Regions from separate parts of the Homo sapiens genome. Here all the other regions are linked to region 3. The links come from fine-mapping of genetic effects on gene expression. A gene starts in region 3. Each other region holds a variant in brackets. All regions are shown on one strand. Distances are from middle to middle.

Region 1 (8,254 bases), 61 kb before region 3:
CCTGCTGGCAGCCTTCTGCTAAAATCCCTACGTGGCTTTTTGCACATGGCCAGCACCTTCTTCCTCACCCCTGGGGCCAAGGAGGACAGCGCTGTGCGACACAGGCCGGCAGCCTGCGTTTCCATGCCAAGCTTAGGCCACACTGTGAGGGCCTCTGGGCTGCCCTGTGGAGATGGCTGTCAACCCTGAACTCATGGCTAGAAGGCGGTCCAGGAGCCAGGCAGGGTGACGGGAGGGCCCCGCACTCCACCCCTTCTATTTGGTTGCCATGGGGAGTCTGTGTTTGTCCCAGGGTGAGAGGAGGAGGGAGCCAGTATCTGAGGGCGGAAGCTGACGTTCCAGTCACGGGGAGCCCAGCTTCTCCTGGCTCCAGGGGACAAGGACCCTCTCCCCAGTGCCCCCACAGCCAGGCTCCGAGCCCAGAGGGCCCAAGACAGAGGCCCAGGGTCCCTGAGTGAGTCTGGGCTCCCTGAGAGAGTCTGGAGTCCCTGAATGAGTCTGGGGTCCCTGAATGAGTCTAGGGGGTGTTTCCCTGAGCAAGTCTCGGGGAGAGGGTCCGTCAGTGAGCCGTCTGGGGTCTAGAGGGAGCGGGTAGGTTGTGCAGCTCCCTCGCTCCTCCCCCTGCTCCTCCTGTCTGAGGCTGTCTTCTCTCCCAGTGCTCAGGGGTCTCTGGTATGAAAGAACCCAGGCTCCTCCAGGGCCTTTGGGGCTGTATCCGGCTGTGTTTACACCTGGGGCGTACCTCCTGTGGCCCTGCTCTGTCCCTCAAGCTGTAAAGGGTTTTGGGGTCACTGTGCTTGGCTGGGCTGACTGAGCCTCTGGGGGTGCGGTACATTCTGTGGGGGATTTGCCCTGTGTCCAACAGGGATGAACCAAAAGGGGCATGGGGGCAGCCTTCCCGGTCCCCGACTGGCACAGGGCTGTGTGTGCAGGGCCGATGGGTAGCCTCATCTTCTCTAGGCCTGGGTGAGCAGGGCTGTGTGTGCAGGGCCGAGTGGACGGGGCTGGGTGAGCAGGGCTGTGTGTGAAGGGCCAAGTGTATAGGGCCATGTGTGCAAGACTGGACAAGCAGGGCCATGTGAGCAGGGCCAGGCCTGGGTGAGCTGGGCTCACGTGTGCAGGGCTGGGTGAGCAGGGCTGACCAGTGGCCACGCCTCTTCTGGGACCTTGGGCCTCACGGGGACGCCTCATGCCAGGCTGACCAGGCCCTGGGCCAGGTTCTTCCTTGACATGCCAGGTGACCGGGGGGATCTTCTCGTTCCACCTCGTCGTCCACCTGATCGCGTCCTGCATCGACCCGGCCGACTCCAATGTCAGACTCATGAAGAACTATTCTCAGCCCATGCCCCTCTTCGACAGATCAAAACATGCACACGTGATCCAGAATCAGTTCTGCCACCTGTGCAAGGTCACCGTGTGAGTGCCCGCCCTCGCCGAGGCCCCAAGGTGTCAGGGTCACCTCCAGGGTCCTGGTGCTCAGGTCACTGCTGGCCCCTCAGGGCCCGTGCCATGGCCGCAGCTGATGCTAGTGGAGCTTCCAGGGCCCGGCCCTGTGGCTGCGGGTGGATCGCCCCTCATCTCGCTGTGAACCGGGCGCGGTGCCGGGCCGCCCCAACTCCTCCGCAGGCAGGGCTGAGACTGGAGGGCTGGGTCTGTCACCTGCAGGTGACCCGCTGCTCCCCTGGAATGAAACACAGCAGCACTCAGGCATGTTTGGTCCTCAGTGGATTTTGTGCACGAGGTCCCTCCCCTGAGGGCCCAGGGCAAGAGAGCACTGTCTTTCTTGGGGAGTTTCAAGACAAGCCCCTAGGAAAGTGGGAGGTAAGGGTTCCAGTGTCTCCAGGGGCCCTGGAGGCCTCTGTGATGGCCTAGGGGGTGGCTACAGGGCTGTTGTCAGCTGCAAGGGAGGCCCTGTAGGCACAGGTGGGATCCAAGCCCCCGGCCTCAACTCCTGGAACCATGGGGCAGGCGCGGCCTCCTCCAGGGCCATGGCCCAGAGTGAGGCTGGTGTAGGATGGCTGGCGGGGGGTCTATGCTCAGGGCGGCCACAGACACAGCTCCTCCTGCTCTGTGGCTACCTCTGCCCACAGCTGCCCTGCTTCTCCTCCTCCCCACAGGCCTCAACACCCTCCCCCAGCCTCCCATTCCCTGCTGGACGCCCTCTCCCCAGGCCGCACAGGGCTGGTTCCTCCGAGGCACCTGGCTTCCAGTGATGGACCTCTGGCCCTGCCCCAACCTGCGCACTTGGGGCCTGACAGGCGTTCCCCGATTCATCCCTCCAGGAACAAGAAAACCAAACACTGCATTTCCTGCAATAAGTGTGTGTCCGGCTTCGACCACCACTGCAAATGGATCAACAACTGCGTGGGAAGCCGGAATTATTGGTGAGGGGCACAGAGGGGATGGCCGGCACGGGCCAGGCTTGGGGGAATTTGGAAGGGAGGGGTCTGTGGGCAGGGGTCCTCGTGTTGAAAGGGTGGAGGGTCCTCTTGGGGCCACGTCCCTGTCCTGATGTGGTGGCGCTTGGTGCCTGCGTGCCCCGGCCTCCTGTCTGGCTCTGGGGCTGTGGTGCAGCCGTCCCTGGACAAGCTCATCCGCATAGAGTAAGTCCCTGGAGGCCCCCCGGGGGCACTTGCGGGGCCACGCTGGCTGAGGCCTCCTGACCACGCTGTCCTGGGCTGGGCTGCCTTCTCTCCACCCAGGCTGAGGCTCATCCAGCACAAGGGTGGGGCCACGGAAGGGCAGTGGGCACCCAGCGCAGATGGACGAGAGGTGTTTCCCCTGAGCATGGTGGAGGCTCACAGATGAGAGGTGTTTCCCCTGAGCACGGTGGAGGCTCATAGACGAGAGGTGTTTCCCCTGAGCACGGTGGAGATGCAAGGAAGAGAGATGTTTCCCTGAGCACGGTGGAGGCTCACAGGCGAGAGGTCTTTCCCCTGAGCATGGTGGAGGCTCACAGGCGAGAGGTGTTTCTCCTGAGCATGGTGGAGGCACAAGGATGAGAGGTGTTTCCCCTGATCACGGTGGAGGCTCACAGATGAGAGGTCTTTCCCCTGAGCGTGGTGGAGGCTCATAGGCGAGAGGTGTTTCCCCTGAGCACGGTGGAGGCTCATAGACGAGAGGTGTTTCCCCTGAGCACGGTGGAGGCTCATAGATGAGACGTGTTTCCCCTGAGCATGGTGGAGGCTCATAGACGAGAGATGTTTCCCCTGAGCATGGTGGAGGCTCATAGATGAGAGGTGTTTCCCCTGAGCACAGTGGAGACTCATAGATGAGACGTGTTTCCCCTGAGCACGGTGGAGGCTCAAGAACGAGAGGTTGTTTCCCCTGAGCACGGTGGAGGCTCATAGATGAGAGGTGTTTCCCCTGAGCACAGTGGAGGATCCAGGGACTCTCAAGGCCCCGTGTGCTGAGCCCCGGCTGTCTGCAGCACTGTATTGTGAAGATCACCAGGGAAAAGAACCACGCCTGCTCCCCAGCTACTCTGTGCTGACCTGAAAGAGGCCTTGGTGTGCGTGGGAGTGGGGACCAACGTTGCCTGGTGTCACAGGACGCACCGGGGGG[T/GT]CCCTGCCCTGCCTCCCTGCCATCCCGTCTGGAGCACAGCATGTGTCCAGAGAGGCTGAGCAGCCCGGCAGGGACAGAGAGGTTGCATGACCGCACAGCGAGTCCAGAGGCTGCGTGAGATGGTAGGGGCCGGGGAGACCCACCCGCCTCCTCCCCTGGAGAAGAGCAGCTCCACGATGGCCAAGGTGGGGCCAGCTCCTCTGGCTCATGCTAGCCCCAGGTGCCACTTCCTTCTGGACTCATTCTGCTCTGGTGCCTCGAGCTGGCTCAATCTGGCGGGTCCTGGTGGGGAAGGTGAGGGGGTGAGGGCCCACAGGCAGGTGGCAAGGAGAGGGTCTGCCTTCCTCAGGAGGGGTGCTGGAGAGGGACCACGTGGGTGCCAAGTGTAGACACCGCCTGTGTGTGGGAAAGGGGCATCAGGAGAGCAGGGCCGGGGTCATGGGCGCCCTCAGCTCCAGGCAGCAGCCAACGCCGGCATCTGTGCCAACCTCGCTTCTGTCCCTTCATCCGCCAGAGGCGGAGAGAGCAACGGCATTGAGAGCAAGATGAGGAAAGTTGAGGAGCTGATGGCAGAGCCCCCGCGAGGGAGGCCGAGCTGATGGCGGAGCCCCCATGGGGAGGCCCAGCTGATGGCAGAGCCCCTGTGAGGGAGGCTGCATACTTCGTAGTGATAAGAGAGGAAGGGGGACGGAAAGAAGGCAGGCGGCGCTGGTGTCCTGGGAAGACTGCGAGCGCTGGCCTCGGACTCTGCAGGTTAAACACAGGCAGCAGGGGCAGGAGGCTGTGCTAACCAAGAGGAGAATGTCCCTGGGTGGCTGCGGGGAGAGGAGGCCCCGCGTGAATGGGTCTGCCCCATCCTGTGGGCTTTGGTCTCTGTGGTCTCTGGTCTCTGTGGTCTTAGAGACCCGCCTTCTTTCCTGGATGAAGAGGGGAGTCCTCTCCAGACAGTAGGATGAGGATGAGGGGTCTTTACTCCCCACAAGTGGGCTCGAGCCCAGGAGGACTGGGGGCAGGGTAGGGCGTGTCCACTGCCTGGAGGGGCTGCTGCTTGGGAAACCTAAGCTGTGAGAGGGAAGGCAGTATGAGGGAGCAGCAGTCAGGGAGCCGCTCACGCCCGGAGCCACCCCTCACCCCTGGATTATCCAGAAGACTCTTGGAGGGAGGAGGAGCGCGGGGAAGGCAGCTGTGCCCTAACTGCGTCTTCGGACGACTGCGGCATTCATGCTCTGGCCTCCAGTTGAAAATAGAAAAAGGGATTTAAACAAGCTTAGGTGAACATAATACAATGGAAAGGATTAAAGGAGGTTAAAGGATACTTTAAAAAAAATATCATCATGGCAGAAAGACCAAGGGAAGATGGTTTAGTCAAAGTGTGTTCCAGGAACTGCTGCCCAGAATTGGTTTTTCTGGATGGATTATTCTCTGCATCTTTTGAGCAAAGACGAGAGACTGGGAGTGGATTTGGTCTCAGGTCTACAGCATGGACATCGCTTTTGGCTCAGATTTGCACAAGACCCTTGGAGAAGGGGGGACTGCAGCCGAGGTGTGGCCGGGCTCCTCCAGGGCCTCCTCAGCCTGAGTTCCCTTTGGGTGCAGAGATCCAGGTCCCTGAGCCTGCAGGCCCTCCTGGGTGCCACGGCACTCTCATGGCTCTCCCCTTCCCTGGCTTCAGTGCCTTTGCCCAGCATGGTGCCATGGAGACCCCAGCACAGACCATGCTCAGGGCCCCCTGAGGGGACCCAGCCTGCGTGCTCCTTGGCTGGTAGGGAGGCCTGTCTGCATCAGGTGGAGTCGGGAGGTGCGGGCAGAGGCCCCAGAGCTGTGACACTGGAGACGCCGTGTGACCCTCATGCTCCGCTGGTAGGCTTGGGCGAGTCGCACCGCATCTCTGACCTCACTTTCCCCACTCGTGAAAAGGGCTGGTTCCCCCTCCTCACAACCTCATTGTTCCTTGTGGGGATTAAAGGCAATCACGTTTGCAAGAAGCACTGCCTGAATTGTCAGGCGGTGTGCTGGTGGGAATGTCCCACGGCCACCCCTCTCCAGCGAGAGGCCTGGAGACCTGGGGGGGCGTCACAGGATGGCACAGAGACAGGAGCCTGAGCTTCCAGGCATGGTCGGGAGCAGGGTTTGAGGCCAGCATCGGGCAGTGGCCAGGAGCCCTCTCTCAAGTGGACGCCCACGCTGACCTGTCACCTCCACCCTGCGGGCTCCAGATGCCCTGCGCGTCCCCATCCCTGCCTCTGCACCCCCCACCTGCCCTGCATGCCCCCACCCCTGCCCCAGATGCCCTGCGTGTCCCTGCCCCTGCCTCTGCACCCCCCACCTGCCCTGCATGCCCCCGCCCCTGCCTCAGATGCCCTGCGTGTCCCTGCCCCTGCCTCCCCGCCCCCACACCTGTCCCACACCTGCCCTTGCGTGCCCCCTGCCGCTGTGCCCCCCACGCCCGCCCCTGCCCACCCTGTGCACACCCCCTGCCCCCGTGCCCCCCACACCTGCCCCTGCGCCCCCACTGCTCCCACGTCCCCACCCCCATGCCTGCCTGTGTGTCTCCCGGCAGGTTCTTCTTCAGCACTGTGGCCTCGGCCACAGCTGGCATGCTCTGCCTGATCGCCATCCTGCTGTATGTCCTCGTCCAGTACCTCGTGAACCCCAGGGTGCTCCGCACGGACCCCAGGTATGAAGGTACGTGGCCGCCGCTCTCAAGGGGCCTCATCCTCGCCTCCAGCCGTCTTTCCGGGCGGTAGTATCGGGTCTGGGGTGGTCGGCCCCTCTTGTCCCAGGGAGAGGCCGGGGCAGGCAGCCCCATGCAGGCTCTGACCTGGCCCGACGGCAGCAGCCCAGTGTTCATACAGCCCAGCAGCCCCCAGCGCGCGGGAGGCAGGCTCGGGGAGGGCGCTGGCCACGCTGCTCTGTAGATGCTGCCAGGTCGTGTCAGGCGAGAGACAGTGGGGTCCACCTCTGCCCCTGCCCTCCGCAGTCAGCCCTGTAGCACCTGTCACACCATCCTGTGGGGCCATGTAGCTGTGGGAGGGTGGGGGTGCCCATCCTGCAGGAGCAGCCCATGGGGAGGGAGAGTGGAGGCAGCGCTGAGGGTGCTGGGCTGTAGGCTGCGGTGTGCTGAGGCCCTTGGCCAAGTGGGCCCGGAGCCTGGGCCTCGGGAACCAATGCTCACACTGAGCCACTGGAGAGACGTGGCGGTGAGGACTGTGGGCTCCAGAGGCGAGTCCACGCCTAACCCAGATCCCGTGATGCCAGCATCCTCGGGAAATGGGCCTGCGGCTGTGACTTAATATCTGAGGTGGGAGGGTCATGCTGGGATGTCCCAGGGAGCCCAAATCTAGCCACGAGTGTGCTTGTAAGAGAAAGGAGAGACGCAGAGGGGAGGGGGCCTCGTGAGGATGGAGGCAGGGGTGGAGTCACACAGCCACAGCCCGGGGTCGCCCGGAGCCACAGGAGCTCGCAGAGGTGGGAGGACCTCCCTGGACCCTGCGGAGGCAGCGCGCTCAACTGTCCTGCAGCTGGACGTCAGAGCCCTGCCTGCCTCAGACTGCAAGAGTCTGCTGGAGAAGCTGCCCCCACCCGCCACCATTTGATGTATTTATTGCAGCAGCGCCAGGACCCTGACCAGGAGGACCTGGGCCAGAGAAGCCCCTCGGGGTGCAGGACAAGACTGCCAGTCTCAGCTCCAGGCATGGCTGCACCCGCACTGCACACAGCCCGGGTGGTGAGACAGGGAGGACTTGCCTGCCCTTGTTCCAGAACATTCCGGAGCCAACACGGTGTGACATTTTTTTCAAGGATGAGCTTTGCCAGCTCCACGTGGAAGTCCCTAAAGCTCCTCCTTCCACTTCGAAGCGTGACTGATGCCTCCAGGGCCTCACAGCCGCTTCTGAAGCACTTCCTGAAAGCCAGCTCCACCCTGGCGAGGCCCTGACCTCAGCGGACCCAAGCCCAGGACGATGCCTGTTGCGTTCTTCTCCCCCTGTAGCAAGTCACCTTCCCCAGCAGCCTCCATGTTGTCTGGGCTCTCCCTGTGGGGGATGCCAGGGGAGAGTGAGAGAGCAGAGGTGGCCAAGATGGCATGTGCTGCCTTCTCTCCTGGAACATGCTGCTTCCACACGGCAGTGCCAGTGTCTTTGTGTGAGTTCATTGATTGTGGCCTGAGCGAATTCCTCCGTTTGCTGTTCCAGATGATTCTGCAGGGCTTCAAAACCAGCAAGGCCCTGAGCAAAGCAGCTCCTTGTTCTCATGGGCTGAACTCATCGTGATGTCACTGGCTAAGGGGGGCAGCATGGGGTCCAGCCCGGCCCAGGCACTTTGAGCTACTGTCCCGTCGGGCCATCTAGGAAGGCCCCCAAGGCCGCCAGTTCCAGAGAGGGTCCGTCACCCAAAGACATCCACACTGAATCCAACCCTCTGCCATTCTGCCTTGCCCGACCCTCTGCCATTCTGCCTTGCCTGGCCCTCTGCCATTCTGCATTACGCCTGATTTTTGGAAGTGTTGTGGTTTTGAGTGTTGGCAGCCCAGTGTCACAGAGGACCATATCTTAGAAATGACCCCAGGTGAGAGCTGTGGCTTTCCTGTTCTATTTGAAGGCGGCTGTTTTAGGGTGCAGAGGGTCCAGGGACACAGCGTGGGCCATGAGGAAGGGATGGATGCTGGGACTCGGCAGAGCCAGCAGGCGCT
Region 2 (8,000 bases), 180 kb before region 3:
ACAAACTAGATCTTAAAAAACTAATGCAAAAAACGTAAAAATATGAGTAACGATTTCTTATGGCCCACATGTTGGAATAAAAACATCTTCAATAAATTTGTCTAAGTAAAATGCATTAGTTAATTGAATGTTAAGAGTAATTTTAATGTGGCAGCTAGAATTTTAAGAGCTGGGTATGGTGGCATGCACCTGTCATCAGCTCCACAGGAGGCTAAGGTGGGAGGATCACTTGAGGCCGGGAGGTCGAGGCTGCAGTGCGATTGCACCACCGCACTCTAGGCAATAGAGCAAGACCCTGTCTCAAAAAAAAGATAAAAAAACATTTAGAACGAGGCGTGTGCTCGCGTTATGTCTGCTGGGCAAGGCTGATCTGGGTTCTTTCTCTCTTTCAGAGAATACTGATGATCATTTTGGCAGTTGTTACTTGTGGATAATGGCCGGATCCTACCAGGCTTGTCTGGGGTGGGTCCAGGGCAGCCTTATTCTAGGGTTCGTGTAGCCTTAATGCTAAGGAGTGGCCCTTCGGGGAGCCCTGTCTTTTCAGCGTGGTCTCTGCTGTGGGTGGAGTTCGGATGAGTCTCTGTCCTTCCCAGGCTCTGAGAACGTTTGGCTCATGGCTCCCAAGGAGGGGTCAGTCCCTTGACCTGACGGTTTCATCTGTGCTTGTTACAGATGAACTGGGGTCCACATGCCTGGTGCAGTAAACCCAGACACCCATGCCGAGGTTTTGTCATAGAAAGGACGTGTGTATTTGCAGGGCGCCAAGCAAGGTGGGCCAGGAGGCTCATGTATAAATCCTGGCCTCCCCCACTGGCTACAGGCAAGGCTTGTAAAGCGGGGGTAGATCTCAGGAAAGCAGAACTGAAAGGCAGAGTCGTGCATAAGGACACAGAGGTTACATGTCGGCTTGGCCTAGAAGGGCGGTATCTGCAAGCAGGGCCTTATAGGTTATAGGTGGATTCAAAGGTTTTCTGATTTGCAGCTGGTTAAGGAGGAGAAGCTTTGTTTAAAAATTTGGGGTGAAGAGAAAAGAATGTTAGCTTAGGCTTGTGGGTGTGGCTTCCTCCAGGCCCGTCAGGAAGAAATTCAGAACAAAGAACGGGGTCAGAGCTCAGTCTTCAGTTTCTCCTTATCTGAGCCCTTCATGCCAGTAGATTAGTTTGTTGGGGAGGTCCTAGGTGGAGGGTCCAGGTTTCTGAAAGACAACTCAGGGATATACATTAAGATGTTATCTTTACTTTCTTTCTTTTTTTTTCTTTTTGAGACATAGAGTCTCACTCTGTCACCCAGGCTGGAGTGCAGTGGCGTGATTGTGGCTCACTGCAACCTCTGCCTCCCTGATTCTAGCGATTCTCCTGCCTCAGCCTCCCGAGTAGCTGGGATTACAGGCATGCGCCACCACACCTGGCTAATTTTTGTATTTTTAGTAGAGGCGGAGTTTCGCCATGTTGGCCAGGCTGGTCTTTAACTCCTGACCTCAAATGATGCATCCATCTCAGCCTCCCAGAGTGGTAGGATGTTGTCTTTTCTTTCTACAGGGAACAGTGCTGGGAGGTTGTCTTTACTTTCTACAGGGAACAAACATCTGTCTCCACCTTCCTTGACTGTTGTTTTAGGATACTGTTACCTTCTTGCTTATCAAGTCGCTGATTTACTTCTCAGAGTTATCTAAGTAACTGGAATTTCCCTTGAAGGAACTCAAGATTTTCCTTGATTTCCATGCTTGGAGGGCTCGCAGGCCCCTGAAGAGAGGGTTGCAGCCAGGCGGGAGTCCCCAAGCAGATTTCTGCAGCTCTGAGGAGCAGCCCCCTCTGCAGAGCCTGCCCCACCAGCTCGTGGTTCTGACTCTGAGCTCTGGTCACCCTCCCGTGTCGTGGCCTGCAGGCTCCTTCCAGGCAGGAAGCTGGCCCCCCCAACACAGCGTTAGAATCAGGCATTGCTGTGGGGTAGGGAAAGTGACCCCCTCACAGCCCGGAAATGGGAAGGCTCTGTGGTTTCCTCTCTGGGTTCCAGTTAGATTCCTTTCGGGAAAGTGAACTTGGATATGGAGTTGAGTGACCCCGAGTGCACCCCCGCAGTAAATGATGCTCAGGACTAAAGTGACTGAAGGCTTTTGGGGAAACAGATGCGAACAAAACAGCAGTATTCATTTTCTAATTAAAAGCTTGTGAAAATCGATGTCATTGAATCTGAGAAACATTATTTCGAACAAAGATCACACATGATAGAGTGCATATACTACAGCATCGCTCCACCGGAGCACAGGACGGGTGTGCCACGGAGGCCGACAGTTGTGGAAGGAGACAATGCACGGCCCGGCCCACCTGCTGCAGGCACCGCCAGGAGGTGTCTGCCTCCTTCGCTCCTGCGCCCACGGCAGGCCCACCTGCCACAGGCACTGCCAGGAGGTGTCTGCCTCCTTTGCTCCTGCACACACCTGCCCCTGCAGGACTCGAGCTGGTCTCAGGCAACTGGTCATATTCCAGGTGGAACCCACGAGACCCTTCTTATCCTAAGCTTCCCATAGGATCTAGGCACATCTTTTTTCTTTTGTTTTAAGCCACCCAAGGCTGCCGAAACAGCATCGGCGTCCTCTCTCTGTCCGCTCCATCTCGCCCTGTGGAGCGCTGTCCCCGGCACACAATCCTGGCGCTGAGGAGGGGGCTGGGCGTGGTTGGGTCAGTGACTGGTGATGAAGAAGGTTTGGAGGACCCCCAGCCTTAATCCATTAAGATGGTGTGACTGGGGAGCAGAATTCGCAGAAGCGCACAAGCCATTTTTACGTGTGTGTAATGTCAGCGAATTGTCCGTTTCTATGAAATCACTCTGGAAAAACTAGTTTCTGTCCTCATTTACTTTTCAGAGAAGAAATGTTCCCATGAAGCCTCCAGATGAAGCCAAGGTAAGTTTTTGAACATGGAAGGGCAAGCCAAATATTATTCTCACAGGGAAAGTTGTATCCAGCCTTTGAGGTGGGGAGGTCTGTGTGTATGACGGCGTTTAGAAATGGAGTCCGTTTCTGATCAGTAAGATCAATAGTGTTTCTCCTCCTCTTTTCATGACTTGAGGTGAGTGGTGTGAAGCCGCAGTACATTCTTCCAAATCCAGAAATGGGTAGTTTCAGAGCAGTTGGCCCCGCTGGGTGCTGTCCTTGTGGGACACCCTTGCAAGGGTTGGGCAGGATGGGCCTTCTCAGGACCTGCTTGGTGAGTAGCAGGTGTTGTCCCAAGCACAGTGGGCTCTGGGGCCAGTGCTGGCAGGGCAGTGCTGTGAGCCCAGACTGCTGCACCTGCCGATTGGCAGGTGTGTGTCTCTGACAGTCAGCAGGCATGGGCTTGGGCTTTGGTCCAGGGTCCCTGGGAACCTGGAGAGACCCCTTAACATCTGTTTGAGGGCAGAGGCCGAGCTGCAGGGAGCTGATGAGAGAGTATGTGTTAGGGTGGCTGTAGTCTAGCCCTGAGGACACGCCTTGCTGGGAAAGGAAAGGGAACGTTGTGTGCTCTGTGAAGTGCCTGAGAAATAGTCCTGGACCCTAAAATTCTGTGTGTCTTCCTGTTGCATAATGTCCCTCCCCAATTTCTTTAGCCCCAAAAAGTTAACAAAGGATTGTTAGTTTGCGTTGTTGGTCTCAGTAGGTTTTTCTTTGACATGGATTTGCATATCCATTCATGAGCTCCAACCTGACAGTCCCTTGAACAGCAGCCTCAGTGAACAGGGCTTGGTCTTGTCACTTACTGAGGGGTGGGTTCACGTTTAGCAAATAATTAGAGTGATTTCAATAGCGAGTGTGAAGTAACATTTCGTTTTTCGTTTGATGTTTGAATTGCTCTTGATGTGTGTCTGTCTCCACAGGTTGGGGACACCCTAGGAGACAGCAGCAGCTCTGTTCTGGAGTTCATGTCGATGAAGTCCTATCCCGACGTTTCTGTGGATATCTCCATGCTCAGCTCTCTGGGTGAGTTGTAACAGGCACTTTCCCACAGCACCTGGTGAAGGTGTGATAGAGGAAGAAAACACACGGCCTCCACCTCCTCTCCCTTCCTGACTAGACAGGGATGCCAGGAAAATCTTTTGTTACGGTATTTGGTCTTTGTCCCAGGTTTTTGGACCATAGCTCCTAAAATCCTTGGAATCTCCTGAGTGTTGTGTCTTTTTTAAGCTAATGAGAAGTGGTTGCAGCCCCTGGGTAACCTCAGGATGGGGTCTGGCCGATCCCCAGTGGCTGTGGATTTCATCAGTGTTGCCTACCGCCTCCATGAAATCCCAAAAGGTGGGGTTCCCTAGGGAGCCTCATTGCTGGACGCCTGGAGGCTCTGGGAAGAAGGCAGCCCCTTCCCACGGGTCCCCTCTGCATCGCTCCCACCTGGGGCCCATCCGTACCCTGGGTGACACCCCGCAGAATAAATGGGTAAATGTCAGCCTAGTGTGTGGACAGAAGAGTCAAACTCTGCAGGGTATTTAGAGAGGTTTCTTCTGAGTGAAATACGAAGACCGTGGCTGTGACACAGTCCCAGGAGGTCCCAAGAACATTTGCCGAGGAGGACTGGTCTGCAGCTTGTTTTGATA[T/C]GTTTTAGGGAGACAGAGGACATCAGTCAGTACATGTCAGTTGTAACAGTGGTTCGTGTTGGAAAGGCGGGACAACTTGAAGCGAGGAATGTCGGGTCGTTGGTGGATTCAGAGATTTCCTGATTGGCATTTGGTTGAAAGGGTTAAGCTCTGAAGAGCTGAAGTCAGAAAGAAATGTGCATGGTTAACATAAGCAGTTGTAGAAGCCAAGGTTCTTGTCACATAGATGAATTCAGCCTTCAGGTAGCAGGCTTCAAAAAGAGTAGAGTAGATGGCAAACATCACTCATGAGGCCCTCAAAGGTACCAGATTGTTAGTTAAATCTCTGTTGGGTCAGGAAGAGACTTGGAAGGGGCAGGAGATTCTCTACAGAATGTAGATTTTTCCCACAAGATACAGCTTTGCAGGGCTATTTCAAAATATGTCAAAGGGATATATTTTGAGATAAAATACTCAGTTTCTTTCAGGGCCTGCCATCTATCACGTGATGCTGTACTAAAGTCGGATCGGAATTTGGTGTCTTATTACCACGGAGTCTGCTTTGTCAACCTTCAGATTTCTGTTTTAAAGTTAATGCTGGTCAGCTGTGCCTGAATTCCAAAAGAGGGGATAATGAGGCAAGTCCAGTCCCGCTTCACATCATGGCCTGACCTCATTTTCCAGGTTGACTTTGGAGTGCCCTTGGCCAAGAGTGGGAATCCGTTCAGTCCATGGGGCTTAGAATTTTATTTTTCATTTACAGATGTTTCCCTGACTTCTGTGAGTCACTCTAGGAAATTCATAGAGCTCAAGTCTGGTCTTCTGGGAACCCCATTTGATAGCTGGTTAGTCGGAAGCACAGACCACAGCCTGGGGCTTTCAGTTGGCATCAGCCGGTGGGGCCATCCTGGAGACTGTGCCCTCACCTGGGAGGCTGCCGGTGCAGCGCCCCCGAGCTGTTCTGACCTCCAGCAGCATTTGTGGTGCCTGGATCCATGGGTCCCACTGCTTTGCGTGGTGACGTTCCACCTGTCTCTGCTGGCTCTGTTCAGGCACTTATGGCCGTGATTTATTATAGGGGAAGGGTGCCAACAGCAGCAGAGGGACAAGAGTGACATCCAAGGAAACCCAGCGTGAGGCCCAGATCCACTCCCAGCAGAGGCACATGGGACACGCTTAATTCCCAGGAGTGAGCTGTGACAACACACGTGAAATGCCCACCAGGGAAGCCCGTCAGAGGCTTGGTGCTCGGGGTCACAGGGCACCCCCTTGCCAGGCAGGTACCAAAGTCCAGACCCCGGAGGGAAGGTGAACTTTAGCATAAACCACTCTGCTCCTGTTGTTGGAGCTGTGAACAATCCCTAGCACTGGGGGGGACCCCAGATGCCAGCCGTGGCTGGCCTTGCCTTCCAGGGGACCCTGGCCCCAGGCCGCTGTGACAGCACTTTTCTGCACAGCAGCTGTTTTTCTCAGCACTTCTAAGATTTTGTCCTTATTACTACTTCTCAGCAGCTTGGTGCTGATGGGCTTTGGTGCTGATGTGCTGTGGTGTGTTAGTCTGTCCTCACACTGTTATAAAGAACCACCTGAGACTGGTCATTGGTGAAGGAAAGAGGTTTAATTGACTCACAGTTCCTCAGGCTGTTTGGGAGGCATGGCTGGGAGGCATCAGGAAACTTCCAATCATGGCGGAAGATGAAGGAGAAACATGCATGTCTTCACATGGCGGAGCAGGAGAGAACGCAAAGGGGGAAGTGCTTTGAAACAACCAGATCTCATGAGAAGTCACTCACTATCATGAGAACAGAGAACAGCAAGGGGGAAATCCATCCCCATGATCCAATCACCTTCCACCAGGACCCTCCCCTAACATTGGGAATTACAATTCAACATGAGATTTGGGCAGGAATACAGAGCCAAACTGTATCATTCTGCCCCTGACTCCTCTCGAATCTTTTGTCCTTTTCACATTTCAAAACACAATCATGCCTTCCTAACAGTCCCCTAAAGTCTTAACTCATTCCAGCATTAACTCAGAAGTCCACAGTCCAAAGTCTTATCTGAGACAAGGCAAGTTACTTCTGCCTGTGAGCCTGTAAAATCCAAAACAAGTTAGTTAATTCCAAGATACAAATCGGGTACAGACATTGGGTAAATAGACCTATCCCAAGAGGGAGAAATCAGCCAAAACAAAGGGGCAGCAGGCTACAAATCTGAAACCCAGCAGGGCAGTCATTACATCTTGAGGCCCCGAAAGAATCTTCTTTGATTCCTTGTCTCACATCCAGGCTACACTGATGCAAGGGATGGGCTCCCACGGCCTTGGGCAGCCCCGCCCTTGTGGCTCTGCAGGGTACAGCCTCTGTGGCTGCTTTCCCTGGCTGGTGTTGAGTGCCTGCAGCTTTTCCAGATGGCATGGTGCAAGCTGTCGGATCTACCATTCTGAGGTCTGGAGGACGGTGGCCCTTTTCTCACAGCTCCACTAGGCAGTGCCCCAGTGGGTACTCTGTGTGGGGTGAGGGCTCCAACCTCACATTTCCCCTCTGCACTGCCCTAGCAGAGGTTCTCCATGAAGGGCCTGCCCCTGCAGCAGACTTCTGCCTGGACACCCTGGCTTTTCCATACATCCTCTGAAATCTAGGTGGAGGCTGCCAAACCTCAGCTCTTGCCTTCTGCCTACCCACATACCCAACACCATGTGGAAGCTTCCAGGGCTTGGGGCTTGCACCCTCTGAAGCATCGACCCTTTTAGCCCTGTACCTTGGCCCCTTTTAGCCATGGCTGGGACACAGAGCACCATGGCACATGTCCCAGTGCTTCACAGAGTAGTGGGGCCCTTTTCCCTCCTAGACCCCCAGGCCTGTGATGGCAGTGTCTGGGCAAAGGTCTTTGAAATGTCCCTGAGGTATTAACATTTGGCTCCTCTTTACTTACGCAAATGTCTGCAGCCTTCTTGAATTCCTCCCCAGAAAATGGGTTTTTCTTTTCTACCACATGGCAGGGGTACAAATTTTCCAAACTTTTACTCTCTGCTTCCCTTTTAAATATAAGTTCCAGTTTCAGGTCATTTTTCTGTTTGTGCAAGTGAGCATAGGCTTTTAGAAGCAGCCAAGTCACCTCTTGAATGCTTTAGTGCTTAGAAATTTCTTCCACCAGGTGCCCTAAATCATCTCTCTCAAGTTCAAAGTTCCACAGATTTCTAGAGCAGGGTCACAGTGCTGTCAGTCTCTCCTAAAGAATAGCAAGAGTGACCTTTGCCCCCATTCCCAATGGGGTCCTCGTCTCCATCTGAGACCACCTCAGCCTGGATTTCACTGTCCATATCACTATCAGCATTTGAATCATAGCCATGCAGGAAGTCTCTAGGTAGTTCCAAACTTTCCCTCATCTTCCTGTCTTTAAGTTCTCCCAGCTGTTCTAGCCTCTGCTCATTACCCAGTTCTACAGGGCATGTC
Region 3 (8,254 bases):
GCTTGTCCCCAGCCCAGGGCCCACACAGGAGCTGGTTAGGGTTCTCAAGGGGCCCTGACTGCTCACCTGCTGTGGGACACACCCCTACGGGGCCCAAAGAAGCTGCTCAGCCTATAGGCCGTCAAAGGACATTCAGCTGCCAGGGGTGGGTGGACACCTGACAGGTCCAGCTGCAGGACACCTCAGTGCTGGGACCCGGCATCCTCACACTTGGCCTCGGAGGCCTTTTCATGTCTGCTGCTGTCCGCGTGAGTCCATTGCTCCCCCCGCTCCCCGTGCCTCTGTCTTCAGCATGGGGCCTCCCAATGGACCTGGGCTCCTGTCCTGGTCTCCCACTGCAGACCCAGATGGCCCAGCATCTCCCACCATCCCTTCCACCCAGGGCTTCCAGTGCTACCCACCATGCTGTGTCTGCTCTTCCCAACCTCCACTGTCAGCCTGAACCTCTACCCACAAAACCCAACCCCAAACCCAGGCAGGGGTGGGCGCGGGTGCCAGGCAGCAGGGGCTTGTCCCGGAGAGCTGTCCTCCTCCTATGTGACAGCTGCCTGGCCTGGTGCTCCCAACTGCGGACGCAGAACCTGTGCAGGAAGCCGTGGAAACAGCTACAAGCAGGCAGGTGTCCCGGGGAACGCTCCTGGTCACTGACACGGTAACACAGGTGGAGCTGGGAAAAGCATTGGTGCTGGGGTGGTAGTGACCCCCACCCAAGAAAGTCACATTGACCCGGAACCTCAGAGTAAGACCTTACGTTAAAATAGGATCTTTGTAGATGTAATTCGATTAAAGATCTTGAGATTATCCCAGCTTCTCCTGGCGGCCCTTAAATCCAGTGACAGGTGTCCCGATAAGCAAAGGAAGAGACAGACACACTAACTCGGGGGAGGAGGCCCCGTGAGGACAGGGGCAGAGGTGGAGCCATGCGGCCACCACCCAGGACCGCCTGGAGCCACAGAAGCTGGAAGAGGTGGGAACCTCCGGAGCGCACAGGCCTTGATCTCGGACTTCTGGCCTCCTAAGCCGTAAGAGGAAAGCCCTGTTGTTCAACCCATTTGTAGTGATTTTCTAAGGATCCCCAGGAAACATCTTATAACGGGACACTTGGCGTGGATCACATCATTGGCTGTGAGTCGGTTTTCAGTAATTGCAGGGTTAATGGAGGCTGTCCAGGTCTGGCAGTGGAGCAAGAGCTGGGGGCCAGGAAGGGCCACCGGACGGGCAGCCATGGCCAGGTGAAGAGCCTGGAGTCCCGAATCAGGATCCACCTCTCCCTGCTGAGCAAGATCCTGTGCCCCTGTTTCTGGTGATTTTGTAAGTGCTGACTGAACCGACTGTCGCTGGGAAATAACACACCCGTGACCCCAAGCCAAAGTTTCACCCACAGACAAGGAAACAGACTCCATGAACACGCCGACTCCCGACGGTAGAACCGGGGTGCCCACCCCAGCCCCGGTCACTGTGTGTCCTGCGCAGGGGCCAGGGCAGCCCAAGGCTCAGCTCTGTCCTCCTGCCCAGACCTCGCTCAGCCCCCTGGACGCCGCCCCGCGCCCGCTGCCTCTCCTCTCCTCTCCTCCCAAAGGCTCCAGGACCATGTCTGCCTCTGAAGCCTGACGTTACCTCCCACTGCGATTTTATTGTAAACTCACTGCATTTATGTCAAGAGAGTTTGTACAGGTTTTGGAAAATGCACTGAAGAGTCCCCTTGTGCCTATTAGGACGGTAAGAACACACCAAGGAGAGATTATTTCATTATTTCTTTGATGCTGTTAGTAGGATCTACCCGAGGGGGAGGCACTCCGGGCTCCGCGGGACGAGAAGGCAGCCGAGCCCGCACCCGAGCAGGAGGGAAGCAGGAGCCGCAGCGTGGCCGCCGCACAGCTTCGGGGGTCCCCCGACTTCCCAGCTGCGAGTGTGGAATTTCTCAGGAGAACTAGACAGAAGCCCATCTCTGGGCAGCACTGAGTGGAAGGAGAAACCACAGGAGAGGAGAGGAAGTGTGGGGCGCGGGACCACCGTGGGGTGGGTGGGGGCCAAGCCGCCGGGCTGTGAGGCCTCAGCACCCCCTGCCCAGCACCCAGCACCCCAACTTCCCCTTCTGCCTTTGCGGATTCCAGGGCCTGCTGGACACCTGGTGCAGGGACAGAGCCGGGGCTGGGGGAGGAGCTCAGCTGCACTAGAGTCCAGCTGGAAGAGTCCAGCTGAAAGTCACCAGAGGCACCCCTTCCTCCTGGGGGGCTGCGCCTCGGCCTCCTCCAGGGCAGGTGCCCCTATGCCCCTCAAGTCCCAGCACCCAGCACCACAGAACCGCCCTGTCATCTCGGCCCCGGAACCTTGTGGGGAGCCAACTCCTGCGGAGGGCCGGGCAGCCCCGGGCGGAATGAGCCCCCTCCGCAAAGCCTGTCTGGGGAGCGGGGGAGGGGCGGCAGGTGCCCGGAGAAAGGCGAGATTGGAAGAGCGGCCGGGATGGTGGCGCTGCATACGGGCGACCTGCAGGGAGAACGGAAGCTGAGGCCGGGGTCAGGGGTGCGCGCTCCGCTCCTCCACTCCTGCGTGAAGGGCGGCCCACTCCCGAGCAGCTGCGCTGGGCGCCCGGCACGGACCCGTCTCCCTGCTCAGGTCGATCCCCGGCCGCGCTGCCCCCACCTGGAAGCCCAGTCCCCTGGGTGCGCCCCGCCTTGGGGTCCGAGCACCCTCACAGCCCGGCCCTGCCGCTTCCCTGCACCGTCTGCGGCTCCTTAAAGAACTGGGCGCGGTCGGGGCTCGCCCCGCACCGTCCTCGAGGCCCCGCCGCCAACCCACCCCACCCCAGGAGGCCGCGGCCGCGCTCATCCATCCCCCGCCGCACCGTCAACGCGCGTCCTGCGGGGCGGAGAGATCGGGGTCCGGTCGTCCCCGGGGGGCCCCAGAGCCAGGTGAGGGGCCCCGCCGCCCCCTGCCCAGCGGTTCCCACGACCCGCGGGTCGGCCGCGCCCTGCGCTGAGCGGATACCCGGCGGTCCGCGGGGCCTGAGCAGAGTCGGCCTTGTAAGGCAGAGGTCTCGGTGCGCCCGCGCGTCCCCGGGCCGGGTGGGGCGGCGGGGGCGGGGCTGCCAATGAGCGCGCGGGGCGGGACGCTGGGCGGGCGCCGGACGCTGGGGGCCGGGGGCGGGCCCGGGACCGGGCTGGGCGGGGCTGGGCGGTGCTGGGCGGGACGGGCGGGCGCGGGGCGGCGGCTGGAGAGCTCCGCTGAGCACCGGGTCGCGCGCGGCCGAGTCGCGGAGGCGCCTCCGCTGCAGTCGCTGCGTCTCCAAGGTAAGCGGGCGCGGGGCTCGGTCCCGCGGGCGCGGCGCGGGGGGCACCCGGGGGCGGAGACTGGGCCCGTCAGCCCCAGCAGCCACCTGCGCCGCAGCCCCTGCCCCCCGCGCTCCCCCGAGCCCCCTTCCCGGACCGCCCCGCGCGTCCCTGAGCCCCCGGATTGGGATGCCCGGAGTTCGGCGCTGCGGGCTCGGTGCGAGGACGCGACGGGGAGGCTTTGCAAAGGCCGCGAGCGGGGGTCACCGTCGGCCGCGCCAGGGACAGGTCTGTCACCGTCTCCGGGCCCTGTGCCTGGCGCTTTGGCCTTTCTTCGCGGCCACGGACGCCCCTGCAGCCCTTCCCTCCAGACCCTCCCCAGCTCGGGACTCGAACCGTTTCCCTATTCCCAGGCCTAGGGGGCCGCCGGTGTGAGGCGTGGGAAATTAGGGCGTGGAGGGCTGGAATGAAGTCACTGCCCGCAGCAGGTTTTGAGAGATCCCTGGCCACAGAAACGGCCCATCTCAGGGTCCTGACACCACCGCGTCCTGGCAGGTGGGGCTGTCAGACCGCCCCCCGCAGAGCCTCCAGCTGCCCCGGGTCTTGGCTACTGTCCGCGGGCCTGTGGCGATGGAGAGGCGCTGCCGGGACACCTTCCCGCACCCCTGGGAGCAGCGCCCGAAGATCTGAGGAGCCCTTTATTCTGCGGTTTCGGTTACGTAAACGGAGCCGAGGGAGGTGAGAAGCCTGTCCCTCCCGGGCAGTGGCGGGGCTGCTGTTTTGATAAGGGTTTTGGGGGGGCTGTTGTCTTGATGGGGGTTTGGGGGGCTGCTGTTTTGATAGGGGTTGGGAGGCTGCTATTTTGATACGGGGTTGGGGGCTGCTGTTTTGATAGGGGTTTGGGGGGCTGCTGTTTTGATAGGGGGTTGGAGGGCTGCTGTTTTGATAGGGTTGGGGGACTGCTGTTTTGATAGGGGGTTGGGAGCTGCAGTTTTGATAGGGGTTTGGGGGCTGCTGTTTTGATAGGGGGTTGGGAGGCTGCTGTTTTGATAGGTGGTTGGGAGGCTACTGTTTTGATAGGGGGTTGGGGGGCTGCTGTTTTGATAGGGGTTGGGGGCTGCTGTTTTGATAGGTGGTTGGGGGCTGCTGTTTTGATGGGGTCTGGGGGGCTGCTGTTTTGATGTGGGGTTGGGAGGCTGCTGTCTTGATGGGGGCTTAGGGGGGCTGCTGTTTTGATAGGGGGTTGGGGGCTGCTGTTTTGATAGGGGTTGGGAGGCTGCTGTTTTGATAGGGGTTGGGGGGCTGCTGTTTTGATGGGGTCTGGGGGCTGCTGTTTTGATGAGGGGTTGGGGGCTGCTGTTTTGATACGGGTTGGGGGGGCTGTTGTCTTGATGGGGGTTTGGGGGGCTGCTGTTTTGATGGGGGTTTAGGGGGCTGCTGTTTTGATGGGGGTTGAGGGCTGCTGTTTTGATGGGGGTTGAGGGCTGCTGTTTTGATGAGGGTTGGGGGCTGTTTTGATGGGTATTTGGGGGCTGCTGTTTTGATGGGGGTTGGGGGCTGCTGTTTTGATGGGGGTTGGGGGCTATTGTTTTGATGGGGTTTGGGGGGCTGCTGTTTTGATGGGTATTTGGGGGCTGCTGTTTTGATGGGGGTTGGGGGCTGCTGTTTTGATGGGGTTTGGGGGCTGCTGTTTTGATGGGGGTTGGGGGCTATTGTTTTGATGGGGGTTGGGGGGCTGCTGTTTTGATGGGGTGTTGCGTTCCCTCTCAGTGTCACCGCTGATCCACCTGGCATGTTTATTGGCTCTTCTGCTTGCAGGGCCCCTGGGGGACCGATAGAGGACTGGGCCCCTCCGCCCACCCCGGCCACCCCTCCCCGCCTGACTTCTCAGGGGGAGAGGTCTCCCCCCACGCCCAGCCAGCCCCTGCCCCTGGGAGGTGACCCAGCTCCCTGTGGCCTGGGACTAGGAGATGGGGCTGGACCAAGGCCGGGAAGGGGCAGGAAGTGGAGGGGAGTGAGGCAGCTGCAGCCTGATGCCGCCGCCTTGAACTGGGCTCTCGCGCCTGTCAGCCGCTCGGTGCCAGCGCCTCCCCACCACGTGATCCTCGGAGGGCCTGTGGGGGAGGGGCGGGCTCCCGGAGCGGCTGCAGAAGGCGAGCTCCAGGAGGGTGTGTGCGTTTTCCCGGGAGGGGTCTGCAGCTTTCATGGTTTCTAAACGGATCTCTGATTCAGAAAGGCGCCGGCATGAACTCGCTTTGCATCTTCACAAAACATGAAGTCATGGGGATTGGACCGCGTGTGCGTGGAGGAAGCTCCGCTGGTCACTGGCTGCGTTTTAATCTTACAGCTGCGGTTGGTCTATCTTCCCGAATTCCCTGAAGTTGCAATAAATGTTTTAGCGATTATACGAGGTTATAAATGCTCGTTGTGGAAATGAGCATAGAATGCTCACAGAAATGGTCAACAGGGGCTTCCTTTTGACCCCCTACCCTAATTTGCAAGCCTCACACTGGCAGTGGCTGCCCTAGGCCTGGGAATCGGTAAACAGGGTTCGTGCACCGGGCTGGGCAGGGCCCGGAGGGAGGGGCCGCAGGGGGCTTCCGTGGGCACAAAGGCCAAAGCGCCACACGCAGGGCTCAGGAGAACTTCCTGAAGAAAATTAGGATCACCCATCGCAGATGGAGACTGGGGAGCTCTCTGGAGAGTCAGGCAGTCTGTTCCCTCCCAGGCCTGTGGGAGCCACCCCCTGCAGAGGACGCAGAGAATTAAAAGCTTCCTCGGGAGAGGCCGTGCCAGCAGAGAGCCGAGTCTATTTATAGCTGTTGGTGAGACAGGGGGAGTGTGTGAGAGGGATGCCATCTGGGGCTCTTGGGGCCCCCAGGCCAGTGCTGGTCAGCGCCCTGCAGTACCTGGCCCAGCCTGGTGCCCTCAGGCAGAAGCGCCTTCGGGAAAACACTCTGGGTGAGGAGAGTCGCTCAATGCCTCCGCCTGGGCTGGGGGAGCCAGAAGGCTATGCCCAGGAGGGTTGTGGCCGGGTGTCTAGTCCATCTGAGCCCACAAACCCTCAGCCAGGAGCCAGGATCAGGCAGCAGAATCTACACACGCCTAGTTCCTACTGCTCGAGCAAAAGGTGTTTCCTGGGAAGGAAGGGGTGGAGCTGCCTGGGTCAGGCCCAGCCACATCTGGGGCTCAGGCCTTGTCCCCAGCATCCACGAGCCAAACCCCAAGCTGCCCTGCGTGGATCCTCCTCCTAGGGAGACCAGCTTCTTCTTGGTGTGTGTGTGTTTGGGGTTGCCACAGGGCCATAACCCACTGCATCCCCCTGATAAGATCTTCCACCCAGGGCAGCCCCCACCCAGGGCAGCCCCCACCCAGTTGATCCCCCACCCAGATGATCCTCCACCCAGATGATCCCCCACCCAGATGATCCCCCACCCAGATGATCTGCCACCTGGATGATCCCCCACCGGGGACATCCCCCACCCAGGGCAGCCCCCACTCAGATGATCCCCCACCCGGGGCAGCCCCCACCCAGATGATCTCTCACACAGGGCTTCCCTCCTAGGGCATCTGCAACAGGCTTTCCCCCTAAGGTGACATCCCCCTCCCAGGACATCCACATCCCAGAGCCACCCCCTCCCAGAGCCACCCCCTAGGCCATTCCTTCACCAAGGCTCCACCACCCAGGACAACCCCCACAAAGATTCCCCACCCAGAGCATCCTCCCCACATGGCATCTCCACCCAGGGTATTCCCCCACCCAGGGCATGTTCCCCACATGGCATCCCACGTTTGACTTCTTGGCATGATAAAAGGTGCCTGCCCATGTGGGCTCCATGAGATCCCCCAGGGCGCATGGCATCACAGACCACATTTCCCAGATCCTATAACCTGTAACCCCAACCTGCTCGTTTGTTCACAAATGTCCAACGTGGCCTCCGCCCAGGGAGTGCCACCAACAGCCGCACCTGCCAGGCGACTTCACACAGCTGCTGTCCCCCTCTGGCCATCAGTCATCAGTCAATGGGGCCAGGAGCAGTGAGCACCGTGTATGGGGTATGGAGGTGGCTTCAAACCCAGGCCCTGGTCCAAGGGCCCTCATGTCTGACACAGGCGAGCTCCCAGCACCCTCTGCCTTGTCAGGAGTATGTGACATGCCTTCCTGGCCCACAGAGGTGGGTGAAGTGTGCGTACCTCAGCGTGCCCATGGCTGCCACTCACTGTTCACCCACTCACACTGGATCCCCGCCCAGAAACACACCAGGCCAGTCCCACCCCACTCAGAAGTGCTGCTGGTGCCTCAGGGCCAGGGAGCCATGTCCAGGCCCCAGCCAGCCCCGGGGACCTGACCCAGCCCCTCCCCCTGAGCCCAGGGCACCGCTGCACAGCCACCTGCATCTCCCACCCATGGCATCTCGCAGGTGACCTGGCCACCGTGGCTGCATCTGGGGCGTCCACCCTCTCCTGCGCACACCGGCCCCCGCTTCTCCTAAGGCTGCCCAAGGGCCGGTTTTCTCTGCCCCTCGGCGGGGTGGCACCTCTGCCTTCTCAGTGCCTGAGGAGCCTGGGCCATGGACAGAGCCACTGGGGTGAAGCTCATCTCAGCCTCACCTCCCACCAGGCTTGTTCCTGCCACCTTCGTCAGTGCCCACGTGTCCCCAGGCCGCCTGCTGGGAGGGCCCCACCTGGCACCTGGCACAGTCCACCTGCAGTTCTAGTGCCAGCCGTTCTGGGCCGCCTCTCTTCGTGTTCCGGGAGTGGGATGGGGTCTTACTCACCGTCCGTTTTCCCGTCGAAGCTGCAATTCCTGAGCACTGTGCTTTGGCTTTGCCTGTTTTTAACCTTTAACCAGAAGCCACGTGGTGGGCACACTGCTGTGCTGGCTAACGTGGATCAATACTGTGCGCGAGTGGTCCGTCCACACTGCGTCGAGGAGCCCCAGGTGCTCGTGCTCAGCGCCGCCCACACTCCCACGGGGATGCCCG

Alleles and levels. Positions count from the first base shown, and alleles are read on the strand shown. Sizes are in standard deviations (SD) of each study's normalised expression. Not every link is listed here.
With allele GT in place of T in region 1, the expression in spleen of the gene that starts at base 3,216 in region 3 is higher (moderate effect, 0.43 SD a copy in GTEx).

The links. PIP is the estimated chance that this variant, and not a neighbour inherited with it, causes the effect.
Region 1: its variant is fine-mapped to the expression of TPPP in spleen (GTEx, PIP 0.98).
Region 2: its variant is fine-mapped to the expression of TPPP in whole blood (TOPMed, PIP 0.97).

What each region holds. Positions count from the first base shown.
Region 1 is chr5:749,128-757,381 of GRCh38, reverse strand. It overlaps ZDHHC11B (zDHHC palmitoyltransferase 11B (putative)), which reads left to right. Exons shown (of 14, transcript NM_001351303.2): 5 at 1,238-1,416; 6 at 2,283-2,384; 7 at 6,125-6,249. Among named protein-coding and RNA genes, the nearest start is that of ZDHHC11B, 31 kb to the left of the region's middle. RefSeq lists enhancers at 2,910-2,959, 2,980-3,059, 3,170-3,249, 3,383-3,882 and a silencer at 5,245-5,435. The variant T/GT (reference allele first, on the strand shown) is at 3,565.
Region 2 is chr5:866,428-874,427 of GRCh38, reverse strand. BRD9 (bromodomain containing 9) reads left to right here. Exons shown (of 16, transcript NM_023924.5): 13 at 2,864-2,902; 14 at 3,853-3,955. Among named protein-coding and RNA genes, the nearest start is that of ZDHHC11, 19 kb to the right of the region's middle. The variant T/C (reference allele first, on the strand shown) is at 4,567.
Region 3 is chr5:688,314-696,567 of GRCh38, reverse strand. TPPP (tubulin polymerization promoting protein) reads left to right here and starts at 3,216. Exons shown (of 4, transcript NM_007030.3): 1 at 3,216-3,290. It overlaps LOC101929898 (a long non-coding RNA gene), which reads right to left and starts at 3,028. Exons shown (of 2, transcript XR_925675.4): 1 at 2,846-3,028; 2 at 1-2,487. RefSeq lists enhancers at 1,416-2,294, 3,208-3,790 and a silencer at 2,964-3,213.